Homo sapiens: one gene and its partner. The protein of the gene in region 1 interacts with the protein of each later gene in a biochemical or structural test. Each region holds a gene or a part of one and is shown in the gene's direction. Other genes may lie near its edges.

What was found. The genes of interacting proteins can lie anywhere in the genome.
Region 2: the proteins of ERBIN (region 1) and UNC93A interact in a test that uses a peptide from one of them, tested with the Homo sapiens proteins (one large-scale study listed by IntAct).

The regions. Positions count from the first base shown.
Region 1 is NC_000005.10:66,020,273-66,024,524, forward strand, and holds part of ERBIN (erbin), read left to right. Parts: intron 1-1,049; coding exon 1,050-1,113; intron 1,114-3,017; coding exon 3,018-3,092; intron 3,093-4,033; coding exon 4,034-4,178; intron 4,179-4,252. UniProt on the Homo sapiens protein: Acts as an adapter for the receptor ERBB2, in epithelia. By binding the unphosphorylated 'Tyr-1248' of receptor ERBB2, it may contribute to stabilize this unphosphorylated state.
Region 2 is NC_000006.12:167,311,523-167,315,314, forward strand, and holds part of UNC93A (protein unc-93 homolog A), read left to right. Parts: intron 1-3,664; coding exon 3,665-3,792.

The DNA.
Region 1 (4,252 bases):
TGACTAAAAAGCTGGAGAAATGTTGCAACTGAGTTTTATTTTACTTATTACTAATTTTTGTTAAAATTCCAGAGAAGATAGAAATAGTCTGTGTTTTTCGTGCCGTAATTTGAAGTGCCTGTGGATTTTAAATGATACTCATTTTCAAAGTATTAACATATTAATGTAATATACTGATATTGTGATTATAACTATATTTTGCTCTCATTTTGTCATATCCTACAAAATCCTTAATACAGAATTTCTTATCTGGGTAACTGGTTACATCTCAATGTATTAAATAATAGGTGTTGTACAAAAATAGCCACTTAAGAGTGTAAATATTTGTTTGAATTAGTTTCAAAGGGTACCTTTGTAAAAGGAGAGAGAAAAGATAGAAGTGCAACATAGTTTATTTCATTACAAACTGGTTTGTACATCTTTCAAGTTCCTGTAATTTCAGAGAAGTGTTGATGTTAAGTTGGAAGTTAAGAATAGTATATTATTGCTTTTATTTAAAATAAATGTCAACTACTAATTTGTGATTCATATAAAACTTTATTTTGAATTGTATTGTATTTAATTTGAACATGTGGGGAGTAATACAACGTACTGTTAGCATTTTGAATATTAATTTTCGGAGTTACAGTTATCTTAAAGTCTTACAAATATATGAGCAGTTTTGAAAAAGAATTTTTGTAATTATGGTAGTAATTATTATACATCTGCCAACATTTATTAGCTGACTTGTACTATATGAAAATTCATTATGTGAAAAAATAGAAACTCATTATTTGTATTCTGGCTTGTGGGTTTAAATTTATTGCAATTGCTTCTTAAAAATAGAAATGAAAAGACCAATGAGAAGGCAAAATAAGATAATAACTGATAATTATTTTATCTAGAAATCTGACTTTTAAAATTTTTTAGAAAATTAATATTTTTATTTTGTCAACATGTGAAAGCCCATAAATAATTACCTATTCCATAAGAATGTTTTAGACTGTTTTGAAAGCTTCCATGTAATTGATATTTTTCTAGTTAATTTTTCATTACTCCATTATGAACAGAACTATGAATAGACTGACCCAGCTGGAAAGACTGGATTTGGGAAGTAACGAATTCACGGAAGTGGTAAGTTCTCATCAGTCTCACTTTCCCTAAGTTCTTATATTTAATGAAGAACAAAATATGAAAATTAATGTATTTCTCTTACAAATTGGATAAAGGTTTACTTTTTTTTCTTAGTTACAAGATATGAAATTTCTTAGCCAGAACTTTCCAGACAGATAGAAAAATTAACCAGACAGATGAACTTCTGACCACAAGTGAGCATAAAATGTAAAATCAATGAGAGGTCCATGGAAGAGATACTAAACAATTTTTAGCATAGGAAGCAGAAAATTTGAGTGATTATAAGTGGGAAACATCAGTCTGGAATGCAGCAGGTAAAAGTAGTTCTGAATCAGAGAGAGCTCCATGGGGTATTGCTTGTTAACTTATTCAGTAATAAGATACTTCTCTATAATGTTACTTAATAGCTAAGGGGAAAATCATTGAGTGAAACAACTGTTATTTTTGAAGTGGTAATGAGAACCTTTTTGTTTGTGCTTTGTATGCCAAGTGCGCTATGAAGCTGACTCTAAAAGGAAAGGAGTAGTGTTTAAGTAGCTTTTGTCTTTAGTGAGTTTTCCAAAAGAACTCAGAAAATAAGCTAGATTTTTTTTTTTTTGAAGAGGAACTCATCCAGCTGAGTATCATTATTAAACTTTTAAATTAGTTTACAAGTTTGTTGTTTAAAAGTGTGGTAGCTCTCAAATGATGGTTTTAAGCCTAGGAATTTCTCAAAACTGCTTGCTATAGTATTGCCCTGTGGGTATTATATTAATATTATAAATTTCAGCTGAGGTTTGAGGAGGAACATGGTACTTTGGAGTACCTCATTCTCTAAAATACATGCTGTGCTTCCCAAATTATTTATCTGTTACGTCCTTTCTCAATATTTGTTCTGTATGAATCCGTTTCCGTATTAACTATTTCAAAAATCTCGTTCATTTTAAGAATCCAACAAGCTTTCAAAATCGTCATTAGTTTTTGTACCATTTTGGTCTTCCAACATTATACACTTTTTAAAACTTACAGTAGAATTTAACAGTAATGCACAAAAGGAAATTTCTTTTAATCCAAGTTACATCTGGGATTCTTATCTATATTTATATGTTAACAGTAAATCTGATTGGCATGCCTTTTATATATGACTGTTAACTATGGTCATTAGATGTGATAGTACTCTGTGCCATCACATGATCATTGATTGCAGATGGCTTTGTGAGGTGATAGAAATAACTTTGAAGAGGGCAGACTTGAAGGGACAATGCCCAGGAGCAAATTTTGCCTGGATATGAAGGTCTGCCACAACACTTGGATTAATTTTGATGTCCTCAACACCATATTATAAAGAATTTTCTACCATGTAATTAGAAGTTTTTACTAGAGGTTTAAATTACAGTATATTTGTATCATGTAGTTATGACTTTGTCTATTTACCTTTCCCTGATTATGGACATTTAGGATGCACGTTGTCTTTTATCTCCTTCTTAATGAATGTCACCAGGGAACATTTGTAATTTTTCTGTTTTCTAAAAGCTGTATCTTCTTACTGATAATGCATGAGTGCATATTTTTATTGTATACTTCTAAGCAGTGAGTCCTATTTTTTATTTCTTTACAAATTATATAAAAACTTGCCCCTGTTGTGTAATCCAAAGCTTAAATGTGTTTTTTGTAATCTACTGCTATGGCATGTCTCTTTGATTTCTCCATTAATAATTTTCTATAATAATTTTACTGTAGTAACTATAATGCAGTAGAAAGGCTTACATCCTGGCTCTTCTTTTTTATTTTTCCTTCTCCCTGCTCCTTTTATTTAATGATTTGAAACTAAAGGTTATTAGAAATTCCCAGGGCTTCTTTTGCCAGATAAAGACATTCATAAAAATTAATTGAATTACTGCTATCCCCTACCCTAATCCCAACAGCCTGAAGTACTTGAGCAACTAAGTGGATTGAAAGAGTTTTGGATGGATGCTAATAGACTGACTTTTATTCCAGGGGTATGTATATGAGATTTTAAATGGCATCACTTATTTCTGGCTCTCCTTTGCAGTTTTGTGAATTGTACCTTTTATAATTACTTTTAATTAATAAAAAAATTGAATTATTCTTTATTAAACAGAAGCAAATTACTTTTTTTCATGAGCACATTCTTGATTATAATCTAAGAATTCTCATAATAAACATTTGTATGTCTCCTTTTAATACTGTTGAGTGTGTCCTTTCCAATGGTATCACTTGAACTTACGTCCCAATTTGCTTTGCCCAAGGAATTGGTAAACTAGGATATTTTTCATGAACTTTCTGAATTTTTTTTTTTTTTTTTTTTGAGACAGAGTCTCGCTCTGTTGCCCAGGCTGGAGTGCAGTGGTGCGATCTCGGCTCACTGCGAGCTCCGCCTCCTGGGTTCACACCATTCTCCTGCCTCAGCCTCCTGAGTAGCTGGGACTACAGGTGACCACCACCATGCCCAGCTAATTTTTTTTTATTTTTTAGTGGAGACGGGATTTCACCGTGTTAGCCAGGATGGTCTCGATCTCCTGACCTCATTATCCGCCTGCCTCGGCCTACCAAAGTGCTGGGATTACAGGCGTGAGCCACCGCGCCCAGCCGAACTTTCTGTTTTAACAACTGACAAATTGTTTACTCCCATAAAAAAAACCACAAGAATCCCCATATATGCTATTTCCTTAGGAGGTAATGGATACCTGAATTCCCAAAGAATATGTCCTTTGTCACTTCTGCTATGCTACAATTAGTAGAACATCTTAGCTATATTACTGAATACATTTCTAATGGCATTTAAAAAACTACCTGGGAGTCTTCTTTCTTGTATTAGCATTTAATTTTGAATTAAAACTTGGTATCAAGTTTATTCCCTAAACTTTTTACAAATTACTAATGTTAATAGAGTCATTAGATTTTCTTTTTTTACTTATAGTTTATTGGTAGTTTGAAACAGCTCACATATTTGGATGTTTCTAAAAATAATATTGAAATGGTTGAAGAAGGAATTTCAACATGTGAAAACCTTCAAGACCTCCTATTATCAAGCAATTCACTTCAGCAGCTTCCTGAGACTATTGGTTTGTATTGCTTTCAAATTCATGTAATTTTTATTAAAATAAATTCGAGACTTCCACATAATCTCAAATTTCAC
Region 2 (3,792 bases), on another chromosome or scaffold:
GTCTAGTCTAAAAATACTCTTTTGCTCTGTTGGCTGTTTTCAGGGTGATAAACTCAGAAAATCTCACTTCTTCAGTGCCCTATTCACTTAACCTGTCTTCTCTGACTAAACAAGATTGCTGGACTTCTCATCCACATCCTGGTCTCTTTAACCCTGGGCCACCTGGGAAGAGGAGGCAGACAGGCCAGGCTGAGAGCAATGCTTTGTCTTTCTAAATACAGCTTTTATTTTGAAATAGTTTTAGATTTACAGAAAAGTTGCAAATGTAGTACAGAGAGTCCCCTTGAAAGGTACCAACCTATAGATCCAATGCATTTACCCCGTAGGCCCTGTGCCAGCTTCCCCAAATGCTGAGCATCTCACAGAGCCACGGCACATTCGTACAGCTAGGAAGTAACGCTGCCATGTGACAGTTAGTGGGGGGACAGCCTTTATTTGGGTTCCTCCAGGCTTCCCACGAGGGTTCTTTTTTCTGTGCCAGGATCCTGTCCTGGATTCCCTGTTGGACTCAGTCATCGTATCTTCTGGCTGCTCTGTGACAGCTTTTCATTTTCCTTGTTTTTCATGACCTGGACCCTTTTGAAGAGCACCGTAGTCTGTAGGCTGTTCCTTAATTTTGGTTTGTTTGCTGTTTTCTCATGATTAGGCTGGGGCTGTGGGTTTGCGGAGGACAGCTCCCTGGTGAGGCACTTTCTTGTCCCGTCATATGGGGGATACAGGACAGGGACAGGCCTCCTCACCAGCGATGTTAACCTTGATCCCGTTGGCTCCGTGGTGCCGGCCACATCTCTCCACTGCAAACCCACTGCCTTCCCTTTCCACACGCGGTTCTGCGGGAGCGAGTGCCCAGGGAGCCAGCAGTCAAGAAGACAGCAGCTAATCTCCACCCTGAGGAATGTCTATGTGTACTCTGTAATTCTTCCATAAAAAACGCCTGTCCCTTCTCCCCGATGTATTTATTACTCAATCATTGATCTGCATCAGCATGGGCTCGTATATTTACTCTACACTTTGGGTCACCATCCAACACCACATTATTTCTTTATTAAGGTGGTAAGACACGGGGCTTATTCTAGCCCCCACTGCGTAGCTGTCGCTCCATTCTCCGGCAGCCAGAAGCCTGGTTCCCACTAGGTATGACTGCTTCCTTATGTGTTCAATCTTTTACATGTGTACAGTCATTTCAGAATTGTTGAAATACCATTTTCAGTCTACTTTCCTTTTTAAAAAATGTCTTTCCCCACTATGTCCTTAGCTGTGGGTAGTTCCATGCAATTCAAAACAATAAATGCATTGCTTTCTTTATGTTTGGATTAAAATAGGAACCAAATCTTGAGTAATTCCCTGAAAAGCCTGAGTTTAATTATCACTGGCATTGGCCTCTCCTCCCCTAGACTGGGCTGATGTCATCCACACGTGTGGCTTCCCCTTTCCCGAGTGGGACAAACGGTTTCCCCTGATTCTTCCTCCGTGTTTCTTAAAGGCAGTTCCAGCGGCTTCATCTGGGTCCTAGGCGTCTCCCTCTGTGGGTGTGGACCCTGCTTCTGTGGGTAGAGCTGGATTAGCAGACAGGCAGGAGTGAGGGTGTCACCTCTGTCTGGGGCCACACCTGTCTTCTTTGGCCTCCTCCATTCTGTTTTGTGGCCAGGGGACAGCCCACTTTCCAGCCACCTTCTGGGTCCCCAAGTCCTCCATGCTGGGGAACCTACTGTCTCCCAAACACATCTAGGTGATTTTGAACACAAGTATGTGAGCTAGAAGACAGTCTAGCTCTTTCTCTCTTTGTTGTAGATCTCCTCACTAGGTCCAGATTTTGGAACCAGAGTCAGAGAATGTCAAGTTCTTCATGTGACATGTGAGGCATTGAGGGCCCGGAAAGTTTATGTTTATGGAAAAACTCAGAGGGCCGAGGAGAACATGGCTACTTATGAAGAAGCTGAATTGGCCTTGGACCAACCAGAACTTGACGAAGGGAGATGGTGGGGGGGCTGGGGGAGTGGAGTGAGTCCCTTTCTTGGAGGACAACGATTTCTAATCACGGCAGCACAATATAAATTTCATCTTGAAATTCTTGAATGACAGCAACCCATATTCCCAAAAAGTTAGCTTAAAATTAGAGTTGCCTGTATTACTAGAATATTTATAATCTGGGTCCATTGGCTCTGGTTTTCCGACCTGCCCAGGGTGTAGCCGGGAGCTTTTAGCCACAGAACATGGCATGATCTACCACTTATAGCCATGGTGTCTCAACTTGGATTTTCTTCCCTAGAACCTTGGTTTTGGATCCCATGCTAACAGTCACCATCAAAAAACAGACAAGAGGTGTTTAGAATAGTCTCAGAAGCCAACTAAATCAAAATTTGGTTATTCAGTTCTCTTTGGTCATTACTTTTATTAAGGTGGACAATGTGCAGACTGTGGGACAAGAAGGGTGCCTTGTCCTGAGGCTTCCAAAGAGCTTCTTGTTTCCCAAACATCCATGAGCTGTTGACAGTGTGAATCTTAGGGCTCTAGCAGGGCACTCCCCTGCTGTAAGCGCATCTGCGTTGGTCTTCAGCAGTAGAGGGAGCATTCATGATGTGAGTTGTTTCGTATAAAACTCATTAACACATTTAGTGCTGGGCCTCCCCACACACGGCATTGTCTCCAGCACTAAGGGAGGGGTGGGCAGAGCGAATCTTCGGCAAGACGGTTCTTTCCACACTCCTGTGTGTCTTGCGCTGAACCAGGTGCCATGGAGTTTACAAAATTAAATGCCATCCTCCCTGCCTCAAGGACCCCATGGCTGGCAGTCTGGAATCCTCCTGGGGAACCACATGCTTCTGCCCCTGGTTTCAGGCCCTGCTGCCTGCAGTTAAGGTCACCGCACACCCTGCCTCACCGGGGCTCAGGCTGCCACTGTCCCTGCTCCTGTCCCTGCCCCCCACCTGCCTACTTCGCCTCAGGCTGTGGAGGGTTTTCCTGGGTCTCTGTGGCCAGCAGCCTGGGTGGAGCCCCAAAAGGAGCCCTGTGTTTAAATCACAAGCAGGAAAATCCTGGGGCTCCAAAATCCCTAAGCTAAAGGGAAAAGTCTAGCTGGGAACTGCTTAGCACCAACGTGCCTCCCGTTCTATTCAAAGTCACCCCTCTGCTCACTGAGAGAAATGCAGATCTGATTGTTTCCTTTGAAGAGGCTAATCAGAAACTCAAAAGAATGCCACCATTTGTCTCTTATCTACCCGTGACCCGGAAGCCCCCTCCCTGCTTCCAGTCTTCCTACCTTTGCTTGGAGTTGTCTTGCCTTTCTGGACAAAACCAATGCTCATCTTAACCAAACCAATGTTCATCTTACGTATGTTGATTGATGTCTCATGTCTCCCTAGAGTGTATAAATCTACAGTGTGTTCTGACCACCTTGGGCACATCTCGTCAGGACCTCCTGAGGCTGTGTCACGGGCACCGGTCCTCAACCTGGGCAAAATAAACATTCTAAGTTAACTGAGACCTGCCTCAGGTTTTCGGGGTTCATGCTATCATCTGGCATGTAAAATCATTCTGTTGTGAAAAAAGAAAAATGTCTTGATTTAGTTGAGAAAATGGGGCAGTGGGAAAGCTGTGCTCTTTTCACAAACAGGGTCACTGTGGGGCCCATGGCAGAGCTCTCACTCCGCTCTCTCCTCTGCAGCTCTCTACGGCGTTCTGTTTGAGAAGAGCAAGGAAGCTGCCTTCGCCAATTACCGCCTGTGGGAGGCCCTGGGCTTCGTCATTGCCTTCGGGTACAGCATGTTTTTGTGCGTGCACGTCAAGCTCTAC